Linked DNA regions of Homo sapiens. The protein of the gene in region 3 purifies or fractionates together with the protein of the main gene of each other region. This does not show direct contact. Each region holds a gene or a part of one and is shown on either strand. Other genes may lie near its edges. The genes, in order: SLC12A4, TMEM9B, PKN2, PRKAR2A, ERLIN1, TMEM9 and IARS1.

Evidence for each region.
Region 1: the proteins of PKN2 (region 3) and SLC12A4 fractionate together in Homo sapiens (co-fractionation; one large-scale study listed by BioGRID). This does not show direct contact.
Region 2: the proteins of PKN2 (region 3) and TMEM9B fractionate together in Homo sapiens (co-fractionation; one large-scale study listed by BioGRID). This does not show direct contact.
Region 4: the proteins of PKN2 (region 3) and PRKAR2A fractionate together in Homo sapiens (co-fractionation; one large-scale study listed by BioGRID). This does not show direct contact.
Region 5: the proteins of PKN2 (region 3) and ERLIN1 purify together in Homo sapiens (affinity purification with mass spectrometry; one large-scale study listed by BioGRID and IntAct). This does not show direct contact.
Region 6: the proteins of PKN2 (region 3) and TMEM9 fractionate together in Homo sapiens (co-fractionation; one large-scale study listed by BioGRID). This does not show direct contact.
Region 7: the proteins of PKN2 (region 3) and IARS1 purify together in Homo sapiens (affinity purification with mass spectrometry; one large-scale study listed by BioGRID and IntAct). This does not show direct contact.

What each region holds. Positions count from the first base shown.
Region 1 is NC_000016.10:67,947,815-67,951,713, forward strand, and holds part of SLC12A4 (solute carrier family 12 member 4), read right to left. Parts: intron 3,491-3,899; coding exon 3,326-3,490; intron 3,247-3,325; coding exon 3,148-3,246; intron 2,898-3,147; coding exon 2,840-2,897; intron 2,680-2,839; coding exon 2,505-2,679; intron 2,105-2,504; coding exon 1,986-2,104; intron 346-1,985; coding exon 247-345; intron 1-246. UniProt on the Homo sapiens protein: Mediates electroneutral potassium-chloride cotransport when activated by cell swelling. May contribute to cell volume homeostasis in single cells. May be involved in the regulation of basolateral Cl(-) exit in NaCl absorbing epithelia.
Region 2 is NC_000011.10:8,950,716-8,954,614, reverse strand, and holds part of TMEM9B (transmembrane protein 9B isoform a precursor), read left to right. Parts: intron 1-1,277; coding exon 1,278-1,412; intron 1,413-3,899. UniProt on the Homo sapiens protein: Enhances production of pro-inflammatory cytokines induced by TNF, IL1B, and TLR ligands. Has a role in TNF activation of both the NF-kappaB and MAPK pathways.
Region 3 is NC_000001.11:88,687,231-88,691,129, reverse strand, and holds part of PKN2 (serine/threonine-protein kinase N2), read right to left. Parts: intron 1-3,899. UniProt on the Homo sapiens protein: PKC-related serine/threonine-protein kinase and Rho/Rac effector protein that participates in specific signal transduction responses in the cell.
Region 4 is NC_000003.12:48,760,502-48,764,400, forward strand, and holds part of PRKAR2A (cAMP-dependent protein kinase type II-alpha regulatory subunit), read right to left. Parts: intron 1-3,899. UniProt on the Homo sapiens protein: Regulatory subunit of the cAMP-dependent protein kinases involved in cAMP signaling in cells. Type II regulatory chains mediate membrane association by binding to anchoring proteins, including the MAP2 kinase.
Region 5 is NC_000010.11:100,168,889-100,172,787, forward strand, and holds part of ERLIN1 (erlin-1), read right to left. Parts: intron 1-3,899. UniProt on the Homo sapiens protein: Component of the ERLIN1/ERLIN2 complex which mediates the endoplasmic reticulum-associated degradation (ERAD) of inositol 1,4,5-trisphosphate receptors (IP3Rs).
Region 6 is NC_000001.11:201,144,130-201,148,028, forward strand, and holds part of TMEM9 (proton-transporting V-type ATPase complex assembly regulator TMEM9 isoform a precursor), read right to left. Parts: intron 2,720-3,899; coding exon 2,611-2,719; intron 1,207-2,610; exon of another isoform or gene 980-1,206; intron 1-979. UniProt on the Homo sapiens protein: Transmembrane protein that binds to and facilitates the assembly of lysosomal proton-transporting V-type ATPase (v-ATPase), resulting in enhanced lysosomal acidification and trafficking.
Region 7 is NC_000009.12:92,290,599-92,295,229, forward strand, and holds the start of IARS1 (isoleucine--tRNA ligase, cytoplasmic), read right to left. Parts: upstream 3,100-4,631; 5' UTR 3,013-3,099; exon of another isoform or gene 2,843-3,012; intron 1,996-2,842; exon of another isoform or gene 1,860-1,995; intron 325-1,859; exon of another isoform or gene 238-324; intron 1-237. UniProt on the Homo sapiens protein: Catalyzes the specific attachment of an amino acid to its cognate tRNA in a 2 step reaction: the amino acid (AA) is first activated by ATP to form AA-AMP and then transferred to the acceptor end of the tRNA.

The DNA.
Region 1 (3,899 bases), on a different chromosome or scaffold from region 3:
GGGCAGGACCAGGAGGACCCCTGGCCACAGCCTGGCCCATGCCCTGGTAGCCCTGTCAGGTCCCGGGTGGGAGGTCCCAGGTGGGTGGTCAGGTCACTGGGTGTAAGACCTAGGTCCAGTCCCCCGCAGCCCTATAATCTCCCTCCCCACAGTGTTTCAAGAGCTCCCTACCCAGGAAACCCAAGCCTCACCCAGAATGAGGCTCCTGGCCTCCCCAGGGTCTCCCGTGTCAGAGGCATGGCTCACCAGTGATAGTACTTGAACCGGGGCCGCCAGTTGGGGGTCCTCAGGAGTGTCTGCACCGCACAGGCGAGGTTCACGAACAGGTAGCACATCAGAAAGAACCTGCGGCACAGAGGGCGGTTGGCGAAGAGCAGCCTCCTCGGCAGCTGGGGACCTGATGTCAGGCTGGGCCTGGCCCAGAAACGGGGCGTGGCCCGGCCCTGCCCTGCATGGCTCAGCAAGGTCTTCTCAACCTCATTGCTGCCACCTCCATGGCCTGAGGCAATGAGACTACTGTGGAGGAGTCCTCGGAGCCAGATCGCAGAGGATGGGCAAGGGTTTGCTGTTGGAGGAGGTAGGAAGGGGAGTAACAGGGCAGAGCTGAAGAGGGTGGTGCAGGGGCAGCAGGAAGAGCTCAGTGCCTGGAGACTCTAGGCCACATTCAGGCCTCTGGCCTGAGTGACCAGCTGGATGAGAGGCTGCCATGCATGAAGGGGAGGATGGAAGATAAGCTGGACCATTTGAATGCAACCAGTCAGAGATACTTAAGAGTCACTGCGGTGGGCGTGGGAGTCCCACGCATGGGCAGGGCCAGCTGCATGAGCCCTCCAGGAAGGCACCCGAGGACGGGTGCGCAGGAAGGCAGGAGGACCCACACAGGGCATGCCAGGGGGCAGGGGCTCCCAGCAGGAGGCCCGAGATAAAGGCTGAGATGTAGCCTCTGATTTGGGCACAAGGGGGGTCACCACCCAAGATGGCTGTGGCAAAACAGTTTCAGGTGTGCTCTTGGGTGAGAGGAAGGGGTGTGGGGGGGTGGACAAGAGGGTGCTGGCTCCAGCAGGCCTGGCTGTAGCTGGGATGGAGCCTGCTCAGGGGTACAGGGCCCCTGTCAAGTCTGCAGGCTGAGTGGGCAGGGAAGAGGAGGCCTTTCATAACCGCACAAGCAAGAAGGAGCGTCAGCCACGGAGCAGGGTGGGCGAGGACCCCAGCCTGGACAGAGTCAACCAAACAAGCGCTGCCTCGGGGTCCCTGGGAGTCACCACATGCTGGCCACTCCCTGCAAGGCACTGGCACGCAGATTTGCCTGGCTGATTCCAGAATGTTAAAAGCAAATGACTTTGAAAATGGATGGGTTGGGCATGGTGGCTCACGCCTGTAATCCCAGCACTTTGGGAGGCCGAGCCAGGTGGATCATCTGACGTCAGGAGTTCGACACCAGCCTGGCCAAGATGGTAAAACGCCATCTCTACTAAAAATACAAAAAATTAGCTGGGCGTGGTGGTGCATTTCTGTAATCCCAGCTACTCAGGAGGCTGAGGCAGGAGAATTGCTTGAACCCAGGAGGCGGAGATTGCAGTGAGCCAAGATCATGCCATTGCACTCCAGCCTGGGTGAGAGAGTGAGACTCTGTCTCAAAAAAAAAAAACAAAAACCAAAAAACAAACTAACAGATGGAAGGGGCAGCAGTGGCTTCATGGAGGCATGAGGGACGCGGTGGTTGCCCTGTCCAGTGGGAAGGTCTGCCGGCCACCTGCTCTGGGGGCCTCAGGGAGGTGTGGACATATTGGTCACCTTATAGCTTTGGCATAGGTGCCAGGCTTGCTCCTAAATGCAGGGGTGGGCTGAGCCCTGTCAGGCCACATCTCCCCATGCAGCCTGCCACATCTCCCAGCTGGACCTCCAACACCAGACGCAGCCACGGGGAGGTGCTGGGGTTCAGGAAGCCTTTCCCCATCCCCCTGCCCTGCCCGGCCCCAGCTCACATGGATAAGATGGGGGCCACCATGTCGAGGGAGGCGATGAGGATGCCCAGCTCGGCGATGAGTGCCGTCAGGAGGAGTGCCCATGTGGGTTCACCATTCACCTTCCCGTGGCCAAACACCTGTGTGCACCAGGAAGGAAGCTGGGTCCTGTCACCCCCATTCCACACCTTGGGCCCCAGACCCCAGCCTGGCCTCCCTCACCCCCAGGGCCCGCCTTGGGGGCTCAGGCCGCCCCTGTGTCTATCCCTATGGGTGTCACCAGTCTCCCTGATTCCACCTCACCAGGCCTCTCTCCTTTGGATGAGCCCTAAACAGGCCATGAAGATTCTGGGTCCAGGCAGCTCCAGGCCCAGGTGAGTGCCAGGCCCAGGGCACTTCTCAGTAGCTCCTCATGGATGGCCGCCTGGCCCCGGGGGCCAATAAGGGCAGGACGTGCTGCATCTGTGTTCCCTATCTCTCTCCCCAGCCGGGCGAGGGCCTGGGAGCAGCCAGGCCATGGGGGAGTGCAGAGGGGCTCACCCGGAGGAAGGGGATGATGTTGTCCTTGGCAATGGCCTGCAATAGGCGTGGTGCCCCTGTGAGGCTCTGGAGGCCAGCGCCACACGTTGAAAAGAAGGAGCCGATGACGATGACCCAGGGTGAAGGCCAGGCCAGTGTGCCCACCACCAAGTTCCTGCTGACACCATCGCCATACCTGCAGGGGCCACCAGAGTGAGGGATGTCAGGGGTCCGGAAGGATGGCACAGACCACCAAAGGCAGCCAGCAGGCTTAGGACCACCCACGGGGTTGGGAGCTGGTGTGAGGGCAGGCCAAAGCCCAGCCGCTGCTAAAGAGGGGGGCCCAGCTCACTCACTTGTCCCGGAGAACCACACCCTCAATGCAGGCACCAAAGAGAACCACACTGCTGAAGTCTGCGGCGGCGTCAAGGAAAACTCGGCCTCTGCCACCCCACTGTCCCTGAATAGTACCACGTGCCCCCACCCCAGCCAGACTACCAGGACACCTACAGCTGGGAGTCTCGTGGTGTGTATGTGCATGTGTGCATGAGAAGGGGAGCTATATATGAGTGTGTGGGGTGTCTGTGCATGTGACCTGGCAACGTACACAGGCCAAGCGCTTCCCGTCCTCTGCCCCACCTGCCCCAGGCCTGGGAAAGGATACACACGAGGGAAGTTGTAATGATGGCCAGAATGGTCCCCACAGGGATAGACTTCTGGGCGTCACGAAGGTCCCCAGAGCGGTTTGAGCCAGCCATGATGCCTCCAAAAACAGATGAGACTCCCTCAGGGGCTCCCCGGGATTGGGGACAGGGCTGGGTGGGTAGGCAGGCAGGGCTCACCTGTTACAGAAGGGAAGAAGATGCCGACCAGCACGGTGAAGGATGTGGCGATGTCAGCGACCACGTACAGAGGCAGGCTCTCCTTCAGGCTCGGGGCATCTGCGGAGGGCAGCCCATGCTTCTCCACGATGTCACCCTTCTCCAGGTAGGCGCTCCACAGGTTTTCTGCAGGGGTAGCTGTGTCACCACCACAGCTGCCCCCCACTACCCCAGGTAGTTTGGGGCAGCCTAGCCAGAGGCGCAGATGCAGGGCAACTTTGGGGACTCAGGGAACAGCTTCAGCCCAATGACTGCAGCGTCAGCCACAGGGCTACCCTGACCACAGAGAAGGAGCTGCCCAGCTAGAAGTCGACAGACAAAGGTGGCTGAACCACCGTCACCCAGAGCCCGCCACTGCCCGCCTTCCACAGAGGCCTTTATGGATCCTGTGGGAACATCCCCAGGCAGTGTCAGGGGCTGGTGGCTGGGGAAGACAGGCTGCTGCAGGCCTTGGACGCTGGCCAGACAGGCTCCACTCACTCCAAACTCGGCTGCCAGGAGCCAGGCTGGGAGGACACTGGGGGGCTGGGAAGGC
Region 2 (3,899 bases), on a different chromosome or scaffold from region 3:
TTAAAACATTTTAAAATCCAGTTTCAGGCCAGGCATGGTGGCTCACATCTATAATCCCAGCACTTTGGAAGTCCGAGGCGGGTGGATCACTTGAGGTCAGGAGTTCGAGACCAGCCTGTCCAACGTGGTGAAACCCCATCTCTACTAAAAATATAAAAATTAGCCAGGTGTGGTGGCACGCACCTGTAGTCCCAGCTACTTGGGAGGCTACGGCATGAGAATCACTTGATCCTGGAGGCAGAGGTTGCAGTGAGCTGAGATCGTGCCACTGCACTCCAGTGAGACTCTGTCTCAAAAAAAAAAAAATAAAATCCAGTTTCAGAACATTCCCACTACCCCAAAAAGATCCCTCATGCCCATTTACAGTTAATTCCCATTTCCAGCCCTACTCGGTCACTAGTCTACTTTCTGTCTCTGCATACATGGACATTTCATGTATATGGAATCATATAATATATAGTCTTCTGTGACTGGCTTCTTTCATTTAGCACAATGTTTTTGATGTTTATGCAAGTTGTAGCATGTATCAGTACTTCGTTTCTTTTTATTGCTGAATAGTATTTCACTATATGAATATGCATTTATCAGTTGATGGACGTTTGGATTATGTCTGGGTTTTTACTATTATGAATAATACTGTTGTGAATATCTGCACATATGTCTTTGTATGGATATATATGTTTTCCATTCTCTTGGGTTAATTCCTTAGAATGGTAAAATTATGTTTAACTTTTTAAGAGACTGCCAGATTGTTTCCCAAAGTGGTTGTACCACTTTACATTCCCACCACAGCGTATGAGGGCTGTTTCTCCATATCCTTGCTAATACTTGGTATTGTCTATTTATTTTATTGTAGTCCTTCTAGTGGGTGTGTCACACTGTACTTTTTCTCAGTACATGAATTAAGGTCACAAGAAAAAATCACCGGCCTAGAAAATACTTTTGTATATCTAAATTGAGCTAAAGAGTAGCTGAATTTAGGACATTATGTTCAGCTGGGAAAAGAAACAAACTGCTGTGCTAGCAGTGGTGACAGGTGATTAGCAGTAGGTGAAGTTGGAGTCTTGAAGACTTGCAAAAAAATCCCAAAGATCTTTCCTCTTTTTTTCTTAAATAATACTTTGGTGAAGAGTTGAGTTTATTTCTTATATTGCTATCTGGTTTGTATAGAAATCCTATAGGCTTAGCAGATATGTCAGTCAGTTTTACTATTATCATACAAAGTTCTGATTTATGGGCTTGAACAAAGATGTAACTTAATTTTCAATTTCCTTTAGGTTACCATTATAATTTATCTCTCCATTTTGGGCCTTCTACTTCTGTACATGGTATATCTTACTCTGGTTGAGCCCATACTGAAGAGGCGCCTCTTTGGACATGCACAGTTGATACAGAGTGATGATGATATTGGGGTAAGTTCCCAGCCTGCCCTAGCTGCTCATGGCCAGTCCCTGTCATCATTCGATGTGAAGTGCAAGTGAAAAATAGTCATATATAGATGTTCACGTGCTGAAGCAGATCCTCAACTAGAGAAGCTAAAAACAGCTCTGATTTCAGTATATACCTCTTTATGAAGAAATTGCTTGATGAAGCCATAAATGTGATGATTTAAACGATGATCTTTGGTGAGCATGCTATACAGGGCCTTGCTTTCAGTACCAAAGGCACAATTTTATTGCCATTCCCTGTTTACATTGAGAAAAGTATCAGAGATGGTTTTCTCTCCAAGCTCTCCTGCCTGAAACACCTTCTCTGTCAATATCACCAAATATTTTAGAAGGCAGAGAGGTTTTCATCAAGGGAAGTGTGAAGATCATGATGTTCTTTTCTTAATGAAGTACAACTTGATAACCTGCTGATGTTTTATATTTCCTTTTTTTCTACTGCTTAAAAAAAAATCTGTGGGCCAGGTGTGGGGGCATACACCTGTAATCCCAGCACTTTGGGAGGCCAAGGTGGGAGGATCACTTGAGCCCAGGAGTTCAAGACCACCCTGGTCAACATGGTGAGACCCTGTCTCTACAAAAAATAAAAGCATTAGCCGGGTGTGGTGGTGCATGCCTGTGGTCCCAACTATTCAGGAGGCTGAGACAGGAGTGTCACTTGACCCCAGGAGTTTGAGGCTGCAGAACTGTGATCACACCATAGGACTCCAGCCTAAGCAACACAGCAAGAAGCCTGTTTAAAAAAAAAGAAAAAAAAAATCTGAGATCTTTAGAGAAAAATAAAACCATGACTACCATCACTCCAGATTCTCTTCCTGTCTTTAAATCTCTCACACACACACACACACACGTGTGTACATTATATATGTTTATATATATATATATATAGCGTGTGTGTGTGTGTGTGTGTGTGTGTGTGTATATAGTTGGCATAATCTGTATAAATTGCTTCATGGTCTCCTTTTTGTTTTAATATTCGTTTATTCAAAAATGTCCAGAAATTGACTTAGTCCACAAATCTGTTTTTCAGTGTAGCTTAGAGAATGTTTTTTTTGTTTTTTGAGACGGAGTCTCACTCTGTCGCCCATGCTGGAGTGCAGTGGCGTGACTTTGGCTCACTACAACCTCAGCCTCCCAAGTTCAAGCAATTCTCCTGCCTCAGCCTCCCAGGTAGCTGGTTCTACAGGCACCTGCCACCACGCCTGGCTAATTTTTTTTGTATTTTTAGTAGAGACGGAGTTTCACCATTTTGGCCAGGCTGCTCTTGAACTCCTGACCTCAAGTGATCAGCTCGCCTCGGCCTCCCAAAGTGCTGGGATTACAGGTGTGAGCCACTGCGCCTGGCTGGATATTTTTGTTTCATCATTACCCTGTATGAAATTGTTTCTGAATTTTCCTTTTTTTTTTTTTTTGAGACGCAGTCTCGCTCTGTTGCCCCGGCTGGACTGCAGTGGTGCGATCTCAGCGCACTGCAAGCTCCGCCTCCCGGGTTCACGCCATTCTCCTGCCTCAGCCTCCCAAGTAGCTGGAACTACAGGCGCCCGCCATCGCGCCCGGCTAATTTTTCGTATTTTTTTTTTCTAGTAGAGACGGGGTTTCACTGTGTTAGCCAGGATGGTCTCAATCTCCTGACCTCATGATCCCCCTGCCTCGGCCTCCCAAAGTGCTGGGATTACAGGCGTGAGCCACCGCACCCAGCTGAATTTTCCATTCTTTCATTATTATATATAATTATTTTTTTAGAAATTACTTTTTCTCGTGGATTATTATATTGGACTATGTTCCTTAAAATGGGTAAAATTCAGAATAGTTTTAAGGTTCAATTCAAAAGCCAAACCCAGAGTGAGCCCTTGCCAGCCAGTCAAAAGTCCTTTTACCCTGGAATGGCTCGTGCATCTATAGGCATAGACGTTGAAAGTCTTAAACGACATCCTTCCTTTACAGCGTTAAATATCTGTTCCTGATTTCAGAAATAGACAATATAATAACACAAAACATAAGAGAAATGGATGTAGAGATGAAAACATGTAGGGCAGGCATTTAATTGGTGGGATCACATGCTCAGTAATTGTTTTGTCCACCAGTGATTGATTCTGCTTGTGTATTGACTATTTGAGAACACTGTCTCTGTGAGGCCTGGCTGACTCTTGGATGTCTTTTAAACTGATTCTAGGCAGAGAGGTTTTCTGACCAGAGCTGTGAATTTATGGTAACAACTCTACAAAAATAAGTGAATTTTAATTTTTAAAACTGTTGCTTATCCAAGATGTGAGTTCTGCACTATTTATATACTTTAAAAATGTTTTTGTTGAACTATCAGTTTTCATTTTTTCTGTTTTTGTTCAGTGTAGAGCATTTTAAAGCAAATAAAAGTGAGTACAAATAGTTAAGCTCACTGCAAGTAGTCACAATATTTACTATATCATATATCCATGACACATCATCGTTATTACC
Region 3 (3,899 bases):
ATCACGTCACTGCACTTCAAGCTGGGTGACAGAACGAGATCCTGTCTCAAAAATAAAAATAAAAATAAAATAAATAAAAAACTCTCAGCACATGTATTGTGTGGTATGTCTTCTATAATCAAAAATAAATTCCAAATTTTGTCATAACTACATTCCATTAAATTAAGGTACTTATGAGCCAGGGCAGTAAAACTTTCACCAATTTGATAAGTCACTGACAAATTTCTAAAAGAGATAAATCCTAACAATATTATGTAAGTCTTGTATATCCACTCATCTTTATGAGGCACTTCAACACTACCTTCACATTTAAGGTGTTTACTGTCATCAAGTACACTGTCCCATGCTTTCTTGATCTTCATTTTTTACAGGCAATATTTATGTATATAATGTTACACAAATTTCATTTTTGTGATTGCAAAAAAAAACCAAGTATGATAATAGAGCTAGTTTCAAACAAGATTTCATCAGATAAAATTAAGACAAGCTAGACATGCATCAAGATAAAGATTCTCTATTTCTGTTTCATTAAGGAATTACTTTTTCATTAGTATATTTTTCCCACTCTAAATTTTAAATCTTTTTAAAGCTTTTAACTAGTTTTCAACTTTGCTGTCAAGTTTGAACTCTGCTGTATATCAAAAGTTGATCATATTAAATGTCATATACTGTAGAGTAAAATTGGCTTTTGAAATAATATAGACATTTGACAATTATCAGCACAGTATATTTTATGAGGGAATAATGTAGAATTAACTGTTTTATTCAAATACCATTTATGGTATGAAAGTAACATTATTTTAGGTGATGTTTACAAACTACTACTTTATTTGTTTAAAAGTAAACATGCTTCTGATGAATGGCATGAAAATTTACCATTGCCAAATTCAAAAAGCAGAAATAAGAGAGCCCAAGGAATCAGATGCTAAGCTCTGGGATAAAGAGATGATGTCTAAAAGGTGCCCCTACTTGTCCCTATTTCAACACTATGTGAATGGTAGGAATTGCATGATACTAGACCTAATCTCTATTACACTAATGAGAGATGACAAAAAAATCCATTTTAGAGCCATCATTTAGTAACACTAGTTTTAACACAGACTTTTATCTTGGTAGTCAAGAAATATTTGGAAAGTTATTTAGTATGTTTAATTCAGCAAAGTATGCGCTGCAAATTACAAACATTGTGGTAGTCTATAAGAGCAGCAACAATCAAACCTAAGCCGGAAAAACACACTGTATTGCTATATTATTCAAAGAAATTGTTGCTATACTTCATTACTGTCTATTACTAAATCCATACTACTGCACTTTTCTTTGAGACAGGTTCTCACTCTGTCACCAAGGCTGGAGTGCAGTTGCGTGATCTCAGCTCACTGCAACCTCCGCCTCCTGAGTTCAAGCAATTCTTGTGCCTCAGCCTCCCAAGTAGTTGGGATTACAGGCACACATCACCACACCTGGCTAATTTTTGTATTTTTAGTAGAGACAGGGTTTCACCAAGTTGGCCAGGCTAGTCTCGAACTCCTGACCTCAGGTGATCCGCCTGTCTCAGCCTCCCAAAGCACTGGAATTACAGGTGTGAGCCACTATGCCCAGCCTGCACTTTTCTTCTTAATAAAGCCGTGACTCATAATTGAAATATTTTGAGATTAAAAAAGGCAATAAAAGCTAATTAGATCCACTCATCTAGAACCAGTGGCAAGAAAAAAGTTTTTAACCTACTGTGATTTCTATCTTAAAATTCTCTGAGCTTCATTTTTCTTCAAAATTCTAGTAAGTAAAATGAGATAAAGAAAAAAAAGAAAAAATGGACTCTACAGCCATGGGACTTTTAGGTGGAAAAAGTCTGTCAGTCTCTAAGTGACAGAACTATGAGCAACTTTTATTTTCTTTTGTGCTTTTCCACATTTTCTGGATTTTCTGTAATACATGTGCATTACATTTCTAATTTGAAAACAATGTAAAGTCTGTCTTAACTACCCTGTTTACCTTCTCATACCACCAACCCCCAAACCACCCTAAAATTTTAATCCTCCCAACTCAGACCTTCCACTTTCCAGTGTCACTGCAAAATTAGATGCCGTCTTCTCATTTTCCATTAAATGAGTAAACTACCAGTGTGCTATATGGAAGAATGATGTAACTACTATAGAAATCCCTTTTGTACTTTTAAAGAGAATATTTTTGGGAGAAGGGATTAGAAATGTAAATTAAAGAAAACTACGTAATTTCATATGTCAAAGATTATAATGAACTTCTCTTAAAATAACCTAGACATCCCTCCTCCTACGTGACAAATGGAGCATTCTCATCAATGTATTGCGCACCTACTAAGTGTCAAACACAGAGCTAGGTTACATGTGAGTATAAAATTTTAAAGCAAAGCACAGTCTACAGAGTAATGTTAAATCTTTTGGGAAGTTTTGGGCAAGCATGTGACACCTTTCATTAGAAACAGTAATTCTTAATGAAGAAACCCTGTAAAAAGATTATTTGTACTATTATTCTTTGTGAAATATTAGACTGTATCTACAATAATAAAACACTGCTAAATTATAGACTACCAAGTGGAATGTAGAAATCATTTTTCCTTGTTACAGACGGAGCTAACAAGTAGTGTAAAGTTAATGTTGGTTAATTACGTTTTTGGCCAATTTGTAGAAAGTTCATACAACTATAACATTAGATGCAAAACATTTATAGTTCCCCAGAACTGTGGCAATTTAAATAATGGTGTAGTGGCGCCGGGCATGGTGGCTCACACCTGTAATCCCAGCACTTTGGGAGGCCGAGGCAAGCGAATCACGAGGTCAGGAGTTCAAGACCAGCCTGGCCAACATAATGAAACCCCGTCTCTACTAAAAATACAAAAAATTAGCCGGGTGTGGTGGCAGGTGCCTGTAATCCCAGCTACTTGGGAGGCTGAGGCAGGAGAATCGCTTGAACCTGGGAGGTGGAGATTGCAGTGAGCAGAGATCACACCACTGCACTCTAGCCTGGGTGACAGTGCGAGACTCCGTCTCCAGAAAAAAAAAAAAGAATAGTGTAGTGGGAAACATACAGACCTGGGTTCAAACTCAGACACACAATGTAACCATGAGCAATTTCCTTAACATTCTTGAACTTGTTTCCTGATCCACAACATGGAAATAACACCTACCTTATTGGATTGTTGTGAAGATCAAATAAGGTGTATAGGACACTAAGTACAATGTCTGATATATAGCAAATAATTTTTAAAATGTTATTTGTAGTCTCTTATAATTATCTTCTAGTACAATTATCTATACTCTCTTCTGGAAAGCAAAAACCTATCTTGTCATCTTTATATCCTCCAATATAGCTTTGGTAGATACTACATAACTGTTTGGTGAAATTAACCCCTGTAATTTAAGGGTAACTATCTCAACTTTCCACTTGAGCAAGTTACCTCTATCTAAATAAAATCTGCTGAGAATGGAATTTAAGATTCCCAGACCAACACTTTATTGGGCATTTTGATGAAGAAAATGAATCTCCAATAATCAACAAGGTAGCTTTGTTAGTACACTGCTCAATATTTGGTCTGCATTCTACAAAATTACCATTGTAGCCAACACTTTCATTCTGAGATTCTTTACAGTTTTCATTAATCCAGGTTTCTTGGAAATAGACTTTAGTTTCTTTGGCATTGCAAAAATGTCTGTTTTCTGCTATACTTCAAATAAAAAAAGAGAATACAACACAACAAATTAGTTATGAGATAAAAATTAGAAATTGGCCATTTTAAACAGCCGATTTTTATTTTTACTACAGTAAATATTCTTCCTTATACCTTGAAACCTCTAGCCACCAAAGTTTACATAGTTTATTAATGCTTCCTTGTTGAATAAGCCTCCTGAATTACTAACAATACT
Region 4 (3,899 bases), on a different chromosome or scaffold from region 3:
CCTGTCTCTACAAAAAATTTAAAAATTAGCTGGGTGTAGGCCGGGCGCAGTGGCTCACACCTGTAATCCCAGCACTTTGGGAGGCCGAGGCTGAGGTGGGCGGATCACCTGAGGTAGGGAGTTCACAGACCAGCCTGACCAACATGGAGAAACCCTGTCTTTACTAAAAAAAAAAAAAAAAAAATTAGCTGGGCATGGTGGTGCATGCCTGTAATCCCAGCTACTCAGGAAGCTGAGGCAGGAGAATCGCTTGAACACAGGAGGCGGGGGTGGTGGTGAGCTGAGATCGTGGCATTGCACTCTGGCCTGGGCAACAAGAGCAAAACTCCGTCTCAAAAAAAAAAAAAAAAAAATTAGCTTAGTGTGGTGGCATTACTTGGAAGGCTAAGGGAAGAGTATTGCTTGAGCCTAGAAGTTCAAGGCTGCAGTGAGCTATGATTGCACACTGTACTGAAGCCTGAAAGACAGAGTGAGACCTTGCTTCTAATAAACAAAAACAAGGCTGAGTGCAGTGGCTCACACCTGTAATCCCAGCACTTTGGGAGGCAGAGGAAGGAGGATCACGAGGTCAGGAGACTGAGACCATGCTGGCTAACACGGTGAAACCTGTCTCTACTAAAAACACAAAAAATTAGCCGGACGTGGTGGCGGGCGCCTGTAGTCCCAGCTACTTGGGAGGCTGAGGCAGGAGAATGGCGTGAACCCAGGAGGCGGAGCTTGCAGTGAGCCGAGATCACACCACTGCACTCTAGCCTGGGTGACAGAGGGAGACTCCATCTCAAAAAAACAAAACAAAAACAATAAAAATAACTCAAAATGGATCACAGACCTAAGGTAAGAGCTAAAATTCTGACTGTCTAGAGCTGTACTGCTCAATACATTAGCCACGAGTCAAATGTGGCTGAGCACTTGAAATGTTGCTAGTATAAACTTAGATGTGCTATAGATGGAAAACATACATTAGATTTTGAAGACAGTATTAAAAATGTAAAATATCTCATTAATAAAGTTTTATATCACTTAGATGTTGAAACAACATTTTAGATATACTGAGTTAAATGAAATATATTAAAATTAAGTTCACCATTTCAAATATCTACTGAAAGTTTTTATTTATTTATTTTTTTTGAGACCAAGTCTTGCTCTGTCCCCCAGGCTAGAATGCAAGTGGCATGATCTTGGCTCACTGCAACCTCTGCCTCCCAAGTTCAAACGATTCTCGTGCTTCAACCTCCCAAGTAGCTGGGATTACAGTTGTGCACCAGCAAACTCAGCTAATTTTTTTTATTACTTTTTAGTAGAGACGAGGTTTCGCCATGTTGGCCAGGCTGGTCTCGAACTCCTGGCCTCAAGTTATCTGCCTCAAGCTATTCAGCCTCCCAGAGTGCTGGGATTACAGGCGTGAGCCACCCTGCCTGACCAAAAATTTTTAAAATTACATATGTGGCTCACATATTATTTCTATTGAATAGTGCTGGTCTTAGAAGTAAACTTAGGAGAACATATTATTGATTTTGCAAAGATTTCCTAAAATACAGCAGCAAAAGTACACAACTACAAAGAAGAAAAGATGATAAACTGGACTTGTCAAAATTAAAACCATTTTCTCTTCAAAAGATACCATTAAGAAAATGAAGGCCAGGTGCGGAGGTGCACACCTATAATCCCAGCACTTAGAAGGCCAAGGCGGGCAGATGGCTTGAGCTCAGGAGTTCGAGACCAGGCTGGGCAATATAGCAAGACCCTGACTGTAATTTTTTTAAAAAAGGCTGTAAATACTATTTATTGGTGAGAATGCAGAGAAACTGGAATTTTCATACATGGCTGGTAGGAATACAAGACAGTACAGCCATTTTAAGAAACAGTTTGTTATGAAGTTAAAATATAATTTAGCAATTGCACTCTTAAGTATTTACTAAGGAGGCCAGCCTGGCCAACATGGTGAAATCCCATTTCTACTAAAAAAACACACACATGCACAAAATTAGCTGGGCAGAGTGACACGTGCCTCTGGTCCCAGCTACTCGGGAGGCTGAGGCACAAGAATCGCTTGAACCTGGGAGGCAGAGGTTGCAGTGAGCTGAGATTATGCCACTGTACTCCAGCTTGGGCAACAGGGCAAGACTGTATCTCATTAAAAAGAAAAAGTAATGGGAGGCTGAGGCAAGAGAATAGCTTGAACCTGGGAGGTGGAGGTTATGGTGAGCTGAGATTGCGCCATTGCACTCCAGCCTGGGCAACAAGAGGAAAACTCCGTCTCAAAAAGAAAAAAAAATTACATTTGTACAATGAAATATTATTAGCAATAAAAAGGAACGATCTACTGATACATACAACACGAATAAATCTCAAAAATATTATGCTAAGAGAAAGAAGCCAGACACAGAGACTATACATTACATGATTTCATTTATACTAAATTGTAGAAAGGAATTTCTACAGTGACAGAAAACATCAATGGTTTCCAGGAATGTGAGTGTGGGGGAGGGTACTGACTGCAAATACAAAACAAGGAACTGTATGGGTGATGGAAATACCACTTGGGGATGGTTACAAAACTCTTCCGATTTGTACACTTAAACTTAGTAATTTTATTGTATGTAAAATACACTGTAACAAAGCTGATCAAAACAAATGAAACAACATAAAATGTAGTTTCTGATTCAGCAGGTCTGGTGGGGGGCTCCAGAACTTGCATTCCTAACAATTCTAACATCCTCAGATGATGCTGATTGCTGCTGGTCCTGGGACCTCACTTTGAGAAGCCTTGGTCCAGTGAGAGACATTGACAAAAGGGACCTACAATAAGCCCCTTTTAATATCATCTTAATTAATGTCCATTCTGTACCACTACCTATCTACCTTGAAGATAGATAGCACTCTATCTTCAAGAGCACAGACCATGAAGAAAACACTATTGACTTCTCACATCTCCTGACATACTTCCTGAAAACCCAGTATGAGACAGGCCTAGAACCTTCAGGATGACTTGAAGGTCCTTTGAATGTTACTTAAAGCACCTTAGGTTCAGAAGCAAATGTGGCCAGTTAACATCTCCCATTTCTGAATCTCAGCACTACATTCTTACCATACCAGGATACCTGCTCTGAAACACAGCTCACACCACTGGCCTTTGCTAATATTGTTTTCTTGCTCTGAAGGACCTTTCCCTGATCCCAAACATTGAAATTGCACTTGTTTTTTAAGCCCATCTCAAATGGCATTTCCTCAATGAAACCATATGTATTACTTCCATTTCTATGTTCTCACTGTCGTTCATACTCTCCTTCATTATAGTGCTTATCATATCTGGTCCTACCTATCTTAATAAATGTTTATAGAATATTCCAATTTCTAATTAAAAGAATTATTAATAGTAACGGCTCCTAGAAAACAAATACATTTAGAGATGTGACTCAGAGTAGACATCATATTTTTGTTAGTCCTTTATCTCTTCCAAGGGAGCTTTTTTCTCCCCTTTTATGGTAAGTCTGATTAGTCCTTGTGTTCTAGTGGGGCCAACTCCACCCACAGGACCCACACCTGACCAATCTGAGCCTTTCCTCCTCGTAGTCTCAGTACTGGGTTCTAGGATAAGCATATCACCCAACCTAGACCAACCATGTATCTTCTCCGTGCTCTTGAGCCAGAACCATAGGCAGATAAGCTTATACCTGGAAAAGTCCAATACTATTTATGTTTAATTAAAAATACAAACACAGCGGACAAAGAAAATTATCAGACAGTACTCATTACAATGATCTAGCCCACTGTTTAGTAATCTTTACATCTTACAAATTTGGTTAATCACTGAAGACTGTGAACTCTGATTTGTGTTAGATTAGCCAAAAGGATGCCTTTGTGTCAAATATAGAAAGTTAGAGGACAGAACTCTTTAA
Region 5 (3,899 bases), on a different chromosome or scaffold from region 3:
GGTCAAGCTGGTCTCGAACTCCTGAACTCAGGTGATCCAACCACCTCGGCCTCCCAAAGTGCTGGGATTACAGGCGTGAGCCACCACACTCGGCCAGGACTGTCTTTTGAAGACTCCTATTTTGCTGAATGAGGCTGAAGAACATACTACATTGTGCTTGCCAATCTTGGGAAATCTCACAGATTTTCAAATATGTGAAAACATAAACACTTACTGTACAGATACCATGAGTAAGTTGCATCAAAAGAGATTTTAAAAGTAAAAGTGGGAAGTCCCACTCAGGCACCCCTCTCCCTCACAGGAGAGAGAGCTATTCTCCTTTCTGTTTCTTTTGCCTATTAAACCTCTGCTCTTAACCTCAAATAATAAAATAATGCCCCCATCCCACTCACATACATAGAGTGAATGGAGGAAAAAAATGGCTAATGAAAGGAATATATGTATTGAAACTGACCCCTGGGTTTTAAGCATATATTATATATCAAAAGCCAGTCTATAATATAGTCACTCCCTTAAATAACATAGGAAAAAAAAAATCAAAGATGACCATTTTCATCATTCTAATTTGCCAGAGTAGTTTTTCAAGAAGAAAAATGGTATATAAATATATGGAAAGGAAAAAAATATAATAGTGACTGTAAAAATAGTAACCCAAAAATTACTAGAAGGCAGTGAATTCAAGTTGTAGATATAAGATAAATCTACCAAGAATCAATCACATTCCTCAATGATTAAAAAAAAAAAAGACTACATATTGAACAGCATTAAAATTCATTAAATCCATTGGTATTAATTTAACTTAGGATATGAGTTTCTCCCCTAAATCAGAAATTCTAAAAACCAAAAAGGCTGATATGATAAAGTAAAGCCATAAACTATGTTTCTATTTTTAACTTATATTGGAGGATTGCATGAGGCCAGGAGTTTGAGACCAGCCTGGGCAACACGGCAAAGGCCCATCTCTACAAAAAATAAAAAAATTAGCCAGATGTGGGGGTGTGTACCTGTACTCCTAGCTACTTGGGAGGCTAAGGCAGGAGAATCACTTGAGCCCAGGAGTTCAAGGCTGCAGTGACCTATGATCATGCCACTGCACTCCAGCCTGGGCAACAGAGGGAGACCCTGTCTCAAAACAAAACAAAACAAAACAACATGTATATGACCACTTAGGTGCCTGATATAGCTTGAAAATATCGATAATGAAAACTCATCTGGAAGATTAAGCTGGCAGAAACAGCAAAGGCCATTATTTTTTAAAAGATGATGTCTCTTGCCAGATTTTAAAATAAAAAGTTGAATTATCACAACCATATGGTAATGTGTTAAAAATAACAAAGCTCAAAAACAGCCTTGAAATTCTTAAAATGCATTCCAACTATTGTAAAAAAAATTTTATAACAAGACAAAAGCAACCAAAGCAAAGGAGCTCTTCTCTTCTCAGGGTATGCTTAAGTTATTGCAAAATATAAAAATTATTTTAAAATTTTTTTAAACCCTAAAACAATGGAGATCTCTACCACTTTAAGAACGTATAACAAAACTACATTTTTTCAATCAATAACTTTTTATAAAAACAGCAAATAAATATAAGTAAATTCAAAAGATCCTTCTGGCTGTTGTGCAGAAAATGAAGTAGACAAAGGTAAAAGTGAAAGTGGGGAAAGAAGACAGGCGGCTACTGCTACTGCACATGTCAAGGTTAGAGTTGGTAGCTTGGCTTGAGATGACAGTGAAGATGGAGGTGTGGTCAGTTTTATTAATACATGGATTTTGGTGGTGGAATCTGCAGGACATAGGGACTGATTAGATGCTGAGGGTGAGGCGATTGTCAAAGATGCCTCCTACACTTCTAGATTGGCTTGAGGGGAAAGAGTTACCATTAACTGACAAGATGAAAAACACAGGAGAAAATTCGATTTGATGAGAAAAGACCAAGGACTCAATAACTAATGAAAGAGTAGGAATGGGAAGATCAATGGAACAGAACTAAGTTCAGAAAAAGACTCTAGTATATAATGGAATGCAGTATGTAACATAAAAACTATTTCAAAGAAGGGGGAAGATGGAAAAATAAACTATTCAGTAATTACCGCTGTTACCCAATTTGGGGTTGAGGGGATGGAGCTGAAGGCCTACCTTGCAACTGAGATCAAAATGGGTTGCAGATGAATTAAAAGATTTAAATCTAAGAATACAACTGTAAAAGCAGATACAATTTTTATAATTTCTAATTTTAATTGCTATACTTTTAAGGTGGTGAAAAGCTCTTAAAACATGCCAGCTCAGCAACACACCATAAAGACAAAATCACTGAAATTACTATGTAAAACATGAACACTTCAAAGTTATCAGCAAGGAAAAAACAAAGTTAAATGACAAAGAAAAAATTTGAAGAAAATGTTTCCTATAAATATAAAAAAGAGCTACAATAACTAACATATGAAAAAGTTTATTTTTAAAAACGAATTCTACCCCTCTCAAAGGGTAAGGTTCAAAAACAAGTTCTCTATATACAAATGCTATTTATTTATTTATTTATAGACAGGGTTTTGCTCTGTTGCCCAGACAAGAGTACAGCATGAACACAGTTCACTGCAGCCTCAACCTGCTGTGTTCAAGTCATCCTCCCACCTCAGCCTCCCAAGTAGCTGGGACTACAGGCACATGCCACCACACCTACCTAATTTTTTAAAAAAATTTTTTGTGGAGAAGGGGTCTCACTATGTTGTCCAAGCTGACCTCAAACTCCTGGGCTCAAGGGAGCTTTCCACCTCAGCCTCCTAAAGTGGTGGGATTACAGATGTGAGCCGCTATGCCCAGCCAAAAATAGCTTATTAAAATCAGTTAGAAAAACCATTAACTACAAAAATGAGCAAAACCAACAATTTATAAATGAAATAAAAACAGCTAATAACCTAGGGTATTCAACTTCAATAATTAACACAAAATAACAGACTAATTTTCTCCAAAAGGATTAAGAGAGAAAGGGAAAGCTTGCATCTGCTAATTATTTGGGTACAATCATGCAATCAAATGTGTAAGAACTACAGCTTACCAACACTGCTAATGAGGGGGGGAGCTGCTAAAATTTTTCTAAAAGGTGATTCGGTAGTATGTATCAATAAGCCCCCAAACAGGGCATACACTTTGATCATCAATCCCACTTCAAGAATTTATTGTAAGAGAGGGATTTAAAAAGATGTACAGAATATATAAGCTTGGTCATTCCAACATGCATACAGTAGTAAAAAATTTGAAACCATAGAGATTCACTAAATATAACCATTAAAAGTAATGATTTACCAAACCTATATTTTTGTTTTGGAAAGATGTTCATAGACAATGTTAGTGAAAAAAGCAAGTATGGTATGATTCTGCTTTAGTTGAGCATGTATGCATTTATATCTACAAACATTTGTTCATATACATTAAGAATAGTCGAGAAAGATATAACAAATGATGTTATCCCTGCATAATAAGATTACTGGTGAATTTCATTTTATTCTTCATCATTTTCCTAGTATCTAACTTTTTTCTACAACATAAATAACGTGTGTGTATAAAAATTCCAAATTTATACAGAACAAATCAGTAAGAAAGAAAACAATCCAACAGAAAAATGGGCAAAAGATATGAATAGGCAATCAGCAGAAGACAGTATAAATGACCAATAAATGTATCAAAAGATGTTCAACCTCATTAACAACCAAAGGAATGCAAATCAAAGGGAGATATAATTGCCCACCCATCCATATGGTAACAATCAGTATGTCTGATTGCTTCCAATGTTGGTGAGTTCATGGGTCACAATTATTTGCACATATTGCTGTTAAGAATGTACATTTGTACAGTCAGTTTGAAAGATAATTTGTACATACAAGAACATGTGTCATGAATGT
Region 6 (3,899 bases), about 110 Mb from region 3:
CCTACTCCACAGAGGAAGCACTCTGTCCTAACTTGAGGGAGTCTGCACAGCAGGCATCACGACAGCAGGCAGATGACAGAGGAAGAAGTCTGGAGCCTGATGCCGAGAGGCTCCCGGGGTAGAGATGGGAACACAAGGGCCTCCCTGGCTGTAGAAGAGTTCATGATGAAGGGTGGAAAGCAATCAGAAACTAAGAGCAAGGAAGAACAGGCTGTGGAGAGGCTGGAAAGCTGGGGCCAGGAAAAGTAAACCTGGGCTGGTGGGCTCATTGCTCCTGTGGAGAGCAAGACGGATGGGGCGCGCTGGCCCACTCATGGCATGCCCCTGAGCAGAGTGGCTAGGGCTGGTAAGAAGGTGTGTGCTGGGGGTGAAGGTCACGCCTGCCCTCCCATCAGCCCCTCTGCAGGGAGGGGAAAGCCAAGGGTAGAACAACAACTCCACGAATCTCTTACATACACAGTGCTTCACAAGCTGGAGTCATTTTGTTTTTACAGAAAAGACAGATTTAATGAGGCAAATTCAATGTTTCTCAATGTGGGTGCTCTGGGATTTTGGGTGGGACATTTAGCATCCATGGTCCCTGTAACAGTGTTGGTAATACACCTGTTATTGGGACCACAAAAGCACCTTCACCCACCTCTAAATGCCCCCTGGGGGGGCTGTAATCATCTGATTGAGAACTGCTGGGCTAGATCACCTGTGATCCCAAGGCTACCAGATGGTGGAGGTGTGACTCAAACCCAGACTTGCTGACTCCCTCTCAAATGCTTTTCCTAATTCCACAATGCCTGGCCATTGCCGGCTTCTGATCTCAGCCCTGCCCTACCTAGACTGTGAAGAAGAGTGAAAAAAAGAACCTCAGGACTTTCAAGCTGGGTGCCCCGCTCAGCCAATAGCCAAGTTCCACTGGACCAATGTCCCACCTGATTGGGGCACCGCGTTCACGCCTGTTTAAACAGGGCAAATAATCAGACCTCACCTGTACCCCAGGAAGGCGGAAGGAGAACAGAGGCTGGGTCTTCAATAGGCTGAAGTTGAGGGGAGCCTCCTAGGTAGGAGGACTGGGGGAAACACGAGGGATTAGGAAGTTGTATCTGATGAGGTCCCCATGCCAGGAAGTTCCCTCCCGGCCAAACAGGGAGCAGCGGTGACATCTGGCTCTGAATTTCAGGTCTCAGGCATCTGGTCCCTGGAGGGTGAGGCCCACTGGAGCAAGTTCAGAGAAGGAGAATGACAGTTGCAGGAGGGGCTGCCTCAGGTGGATGAAAGGAGTTGGGTCTGCACAGGGCACTGGCTGGGAGTGAAGGACAGACAGCTGCTTTTTCCCTGAGTGGTGAGAACACAGAGGAGCTACAGCACAGGGCTCCCTGGAATAGGCAGGAAGGACAGCAGTGAAGACCACCGCCCCCTAAATGTGCCTCGAAAGGAGAAACCTGATGGAGGACCCAGCAGTGCCTTTAAATATGAGAATTATTTTCCAATGCTATTTATAGACTCTTCAAAGGACAAGCAGAAAAATGCTACAAACTGGAACAGAAAGGGCTACATTAGGCCAGGCATGGAGCTCACACCTATAATCCCAGCACTTCGGGAAGCCAAGGCTGGAGCAGTGCTTGAGGCCAGGAGTTCGAGACAAGCCTGGGCAAGACAGTGAGACCCTGTCTCTACCAAAAATTTAAAAAATTAGCTGGGTGTGGTGATGTGCACCTGTGGTCCTAGCTAATCAGGAGGCTGAGGTGGGAGGGTTGCATGGGCCTGGGAGGTCAGAGCTGCAGTGAGCTGTGATCGTGCCACTGGACTACAGCATAGGCAACAGAGTCAGACCCAGTCTCTAAAAAACAAACAAAAAAAGAAATGGCTATGTAATCAGTGAGTACTGTGTGTGCCAGGTGCCTGGCCCAGGATTGTTAGAACCTGGACTAGGAAGCCGCACTGGGGGGCTGGGGGTCATGACGGTCTCTGCTAGGGCGGCTTCACAGCCTCTAGAAGACACGGGAAGTTCTGCCTGGTGCAGGAATGAACAGACACCTCGTGACGTCTATGGTGGTGACTGTGTCTATCATCTCTTTCCTGAATTCACCCAAATGATCAATGAGAAGGTGGTTCAGGAAAACACAAAAGAACCAATCTGATGTTCTCCCAGCACCCAACACCCAGCCCTAGTCCACAGCTCTGATGCTTTTTAGAGGAGCTTAGTCACTTTGGAAGCTTAATTAGACTAAGCTCCAGGAGGGCAGCCCAACCTCCCCATTGGCAGCATCTTGCCCAGAATATAGCAGGCACCGAAAAGAGATTTACTGGATGAATAGAAGAAGGGAGAGGAACGAAATAAACTGTAAAGAATGCAGGGAAAAAGGAGTCTCCAGCAGCTCTCCCAGGGCTCTCCCCTCTCACTGTAATGGTAACTACTGGAAAGAGAGCAGAGAAGGGAGCTGGCTCCAGGAAGGTGTGGGATGTGGGTCCCAGTGTCTGCACTAGGCCAGCCTAGAAGCCAGTCTCATAGCCATTGGGACATTCCAGAATAAAGTGAAAAACTGTGGGTGTAGGCCAGTCTGCGATTGGAGAATGGCGTGTGGGAATCCCACTGGCTTCCTGAGACCCTGGCGTTACCTTGATGGTGGTGGTGCTGCGCTCCTCGTACCTGCACTCGCACAGCAGGCAGTAGGCCTCCACGTCATGGCCAGGCACTGGCATGGGCTCCACCACGTGCAGGCAGTTGCTACAACAGAGAGAGACAGGGCTGTCGAGGCAGGGCCACCACGTCTTAGAGCCTCAAGACCAGAGAAGCAGGTAGCCAGGGGAGCTGAGAGGTAGGGGCTAGGCAAAGGTGAAGGGTGCTCCCAGAGAGGGCCAAGGGCTTATAAAGGATTAGGCTGGCAGAAACCCTTCCTAACCCACAGCCTCACAGCCCATGCCCCTTACACATCAAAACCAGCTCTCCAAACTGCCTACAGGGCTGGCTCCAAAACCATCAACGTTCCCAGGGTTCTACCCCCAGCCGCCTTCCTCATCTCATGCTATGTTCTCCCGGCATGTGCTCATCTGTCCCAAAGGTTCAACTCAGAAGCTGACGGATCTTAGATCAGAATCTCCAGCCAGGGCCGCTCTCCTCTATGAGCTACAGGAGTCACTATGTGCATGTCCCATAGAGACCATGAACTCTACACCCGCCCCTGCACACCCTTTGCCCTCAACTCCCTACTCCTGCAAACTGGCTCCCCATTTGCAATGGCAGAGAGAACACTTCTACCGTCCACTTCACTGTCCGGGTCAAACCCTGGAAATCATCTTTGACACTGCCTTCCTCTCATCTAAGTAAAATCACCAAAGGCCAGTGATTTTACTTCCCTAAAAATTCCTAGAATCCATCTCCTTTATTCTCTCCCACTGCTGTGTCTTAGCTGAGGCCCTCATCCTATCTTCCTCGGACAACCGCACCAGCCTCCGCGCTGCCCTCCTGCCTCGAGTTTGGCCTTTCTAACACATACTACCTTCCCACGGCAGCCAAGTGGTTTTCCAGAATGCAACTCTGGTCATGTCATTCCCCAGCTTAGGCCCGGTCAGTGCCTCCACAGAGCCCCTAGGGCCAATGCTAACTCAATTGCTCTGCCAGGGGTCCCAACCCACCTCACTCCAGTTCCATCTCTTGCTACGCCTCCCTCACCCACTTTCCCAACCTCCAGCCACACGGATCTGCCAGGCTGCTCTCTGAAGGAGCCACACCCACACTCTCACCAGGAGGGCATGGCTTTGCCACCTCATCTTTTAACTCTCAGCTTAGCCACCTGTGCCCAATAGCCAGCTCCCCCCAACCCCCCGCCAATGCACTGCATTGTAATCCAATCTTTATTCGTGCTGTCTCCCCAGGAGATGTACGTTCCTTGAACACAGGGTTATGT
Region 7 (4,631 bases), on a different chromosome or scaffold from region 3:
AATAAACCATTACCTAAACAAGGTTATAGATTTTTCGCTTACATTTAGGCCACAAATAATTTTATTTTCGTATATGGTGTGAGGGAGGGGTACATGGCTATTATTTAATATTCAGTAATGGTAGAGACAATGTTTCCAAAAGTAAGCAGGAAAATCTTGGAAATTCTATCTAGTGGTGCAAAAAACTCATTAATAATCTGAAGAAAAATATCTCAAAGTAGTTAAGAATTTTCTTACCTACACTCACATGACAGAAATCAGTTCTCTTGAAGTAACTTCATCTTCTCTTTGAGGAAAACTGGTAAAACTTAAAAAATCTTAAAGCTAAAAAGATGAGAATCTCACATTCAAATATAGATTCCAGTTTTCCATTTTACCCTTTTTATTGCTTATTCATGATTTTTATGAAGGATGAGCCCTATACCTTTCTGGTTTAGTCCCTAATGAGAGAAGTCTTAAAGTGTCTTTTTAAATGTTTTGCTAATAACCTCATGCAGAGATACTTGATCAATCTATGACTTAAGTATCTAGTGAGCCACCCTTGAGACCTTTCCTTCTCAAAGTCTATTTATATTTACTTAACAATTCTAACAAGGTGGGTGACGAGCTTTCCAAGTCAGTATCAGATCAGAAGGGGATAAAATTGCTAATAAGGGAACAACAGAGAAGATAAAAAATCTTAAGTACTCAAGAACCACAACAGACCAGGGTAATCAACTCTACAGGAAAAGACACCTACATACCTCAAACAGTTTTGAAAGCATCAAAAGCATCATAGTCTAATCAAGTTATTGATTCAAGTTATCATTTAAAAAAAAGTCTGTGACAAGTAGTATCTTTCATTTTCTTTTACCCTCATTAATTTTTCAGATGTGTGAGTGCCTCTGAGTTTAATTTAAGAAAAAACAGGACAAGAACAGTTGGGCTGTTTAACTAACTGAAATAGCTATTTCTGATCACAGTATGCCATTAAAAGGTATTAAACAGAAGGTTTAAGGCATTTTAGATCTTCAACTCTTATTATAACCTCTAGCCTTTCAAGGACCAAAATAAGTGTTTGTGCATTTACTGATTTATTTAGGTTCATTGTGTACCTTATCAGAGGCCAACTGAAACTTATGGGATTGTTATCTGAAGACTAACAGACCTTTAGATACCAACACATTCTAATCTCTTCAAGGCTGGTCCTACTATGGCCCACATCTATGGGAGCTTATTAGAGATGCAGACTTACCAGCCTCACCTCGCACCTACGAGTCAGAACCTGCATTTTAACAAGATCCCTAGGGGATGAGCATTCACATCAAAGTCTGAACATCACCACTCTTGCACTGTTCTAACAATTATTCAGGAATATCTATCTGAATTTTTATTTTTGAGAAAATAAGATTTAAGCTTTCTGAGAAGAGGATCATTCCTTTTTTTTTTTTTTTTTTGAGACAGTGGCTCACTCTGTCACCTAGGCTGGAGTGCAGTGGCACAATCATGGCTCACTGCAGCCTTGACCTCCCTGGGTTCAGGTGTTCCTCCCAGTTTAGCCCGCCAAGTAGCTAGGACTACAGGTGTGCACCACCACACTCAGCTTTTTTTTTTTTTTTTTTTGGTGGGGAGGGGGTGGTTTGTAGAGACAGGGTTTTGCCATGTTGCCCTGGCTGGTCTTCAACTCCTAGGCTAAAGCGATCCTCTTGCCCTGGGCTCCCAAAGGGCTGGGATTACAGGCATGAGCCACTATGCCTGGCCAGCTCATTCAGCTTTTACTGTGTTTTTTAGGGAGTCTCTACTTTCCCCAAAGATTAAGAATCACTGCATTATTACGTCAAGCATAAACACTCAGTATAACAGCATTGACTATTCAGGAAGAATCATGTACCAGCGACCGGGCTATGGCAGCTGCTGAGGAGAAGCAGCCTCCATGCATAAATCACAGGATTGCTATGGCCCATCGAATCCACTGGAGAGCTGTCCATGCACAACAGCATCCAGCAACCACAGGGCAGGGACAGAGCAGGTTAACCTTGCACAACAACCTTGTTGTGCAGAGGGATGCCATCCCCTTTGCTTCCCTCTTATTATAATCCAGGCCCTTGACTCTTCGCTGCTCCACAACTCCTTCAGGTCACCTTAACCTCAACTTCCCGTTCAGCAATTTCGAGACCACCCTCCCTGATATTAACTACATATTATTCACATTACTTCATATTATTTTGCCTCAATATATTTTAGAAACGCACACTAAAACCATGTTTTGTTTAAAATTTCATAATTCCTTCCAGAATTGCTTCCCTTTTAAACTACTGTATTAGTGGTTCCAATATTCTTCCCATTACTTAGGCATGACATTTTTGAGTCACCCCTGACACTACTCAGAAGATACACACAACCAATTAATCATCAAGTCATGTGGATCCTACCTATAAGCCTATTTCTGTTCCCCCTTTTCATTCTCCTCTAAATCCATTTCTGTTTCTCCTTTTATTCTCAGGTCTTCATAATCTATTAAGTCAAATGTAACCTGAAAGTGGGACCGTCTCAAACGTTTCCTCAATTTAGTTATATCCTATTAACATAGACTCCACAGGTATACTCATGCAAATGTACAAAATGTGTATACAATGACATTCACCGAATAATTGTTTCTCCAGGCAAATAACTGAAAACAATCTAAATATTCATGGTGACTGAAGTAAATTACGGTACATCAATAAAATAAGTATCTCGCAGCCATTGAAGGTAATAAATTAAGACATATAAAAATACGTATTGCCTATACATAAAGTCACAGCTATATCAATTTATACTATGTATATCATTTTAAAAAGATTTTACTCATTTCAAACACTACCTCATTCAAAAAGGCGACCATAAATTCCTGAGGCTGGAAACGAACGAACGGCAAGCCCCGAAGAAACACGCTCTTTTAAAAATTAAATCTTGTGCTACTGTTTCGGGGTTGTAACGCGTGCGTGACCCTCGTCTTTGAGGGCCGGATCCTGCAGGGAAGAGAGGGCGTACCTGAGGGGCCTCGCGTGCCTGGACAGCCCCGCGGGCCAGCAAGCCTAAAAGCAACTCATCCGGCGTCCACGCTGCAACCGGGCGCACGGAGGTGATGCAACGCGCTGAAAATGCGGGATCCAGTGAAGGAGACAGGCTCCGCACCGGCCAATCAGTGCGCGCTGCCTGACACCTGCCAACAAGCCAGGCGCCGATTGGTCGCGCCGGACATGATTGCGCCCACTGGCTCGGATGGTGCGACAGTGGTGCTTGCTGGTTTTGCGCCTCCACGTGGAAAACGAACCAGCGCTGAGGGCGGCGCTGTGCGTGCTGCTTGTATCCGTTGCAGTAGTGTAGACCGAGGTCTCACTCGGGTTGTGGGCACCTCCGGGTAGGTGACGGCCCACTGGGAAGGGGCGCCGAGGTCGGGGCTCATGTTCTTCATCTTGTTTGCTTTTGTCAGTATTTATCTGACTGGACACTTCGTACCTAAATTGATAACGACAAACAGCAACTTCCGGAGAGGTGGCTTTAATAATTATACTTTTGGGCCCTGAGCCGCCGACCCCAAAGCCGCTTCTCCTATCATAAATGGCTACGTGAAACGATAATAACAAAAGGGAAGGAAGGGTCTGACAACCAGATTTAAAAGTTTTATTGTATTTTACTTAAAATGTTTCCGGTAATGAAAACATTGCACAAACGATTTTTTTTTCTTTTTTTGAGAAGCGGTCTCATTCTGTCGCCCAGGCTGGAGTGCAGTGGCACGGTCATGGCTCACTGCAGCCTCAACCTCCCCGGATCAGATGATCCTCGCACCTCATCCCTGGCCAAGTAGCTGGGACTACAGGCTAGCGCCACCACGCCCGGCTAATTTTTGTATTTTCTGTAGCAACGGGGTCTTGCTATGTTGCCTAGGCTGCTGTCAAACTCGTGGGCTCAAGCGATCTGCTTGCCTTAGCCTCCTTAACTGTTGGGATTACAGGCATGAGCCACTGCACCCGGCCTGCATACTTATTATCATTGCTATGAGTCGGCTTGGTACCTTACTGATCTGCTGGTTAAAATCTGGAGCCTTGCAAAGGGCAGTAGGCCTCGGGCTTTGGCCCCAGAGCCTCTAAAGGAAATTCTGGATCTTGCCAAATTGGGAGTAGTTCCGTAGCTGCCTATTGTATCCGTTAGAGGGATATAAAAAATTTATCTGGCCTAGAATAGGTAGAATGCAGTTTCTTATTAAGTTTAGGAACATTTTGATAGTCTGTTCAGCATATATTTAACTTTACTTACCGTCTTGGCCCTGTGTGAAGGATTAAAGTGGTTTCATGTCCTCCATCATGGGTAACTCAGTGTTCTGACTATACTCACATAACGTACATAATTTAATAGCTGCAAATCTTGTTAATTAACTGAAAGTATTTGGAATGTGTTTGAAGTTTTCACATTCCTCACGTTGCCACCTTGTTCAGTTCATTTTTGTCACCTATCCAGAGAGCCCAGATAGAGCCAGACAGAGGGCTCCTGGACAAAGGTGAGGTAGGCCAAGTCTAATTATTTAAAAATTTGATTGAGAAACATTTATATTAATAGTACTGTTGTGTTGGAAATAATGCTCAAAATCCTAAGGAAATTGAACATTCAAA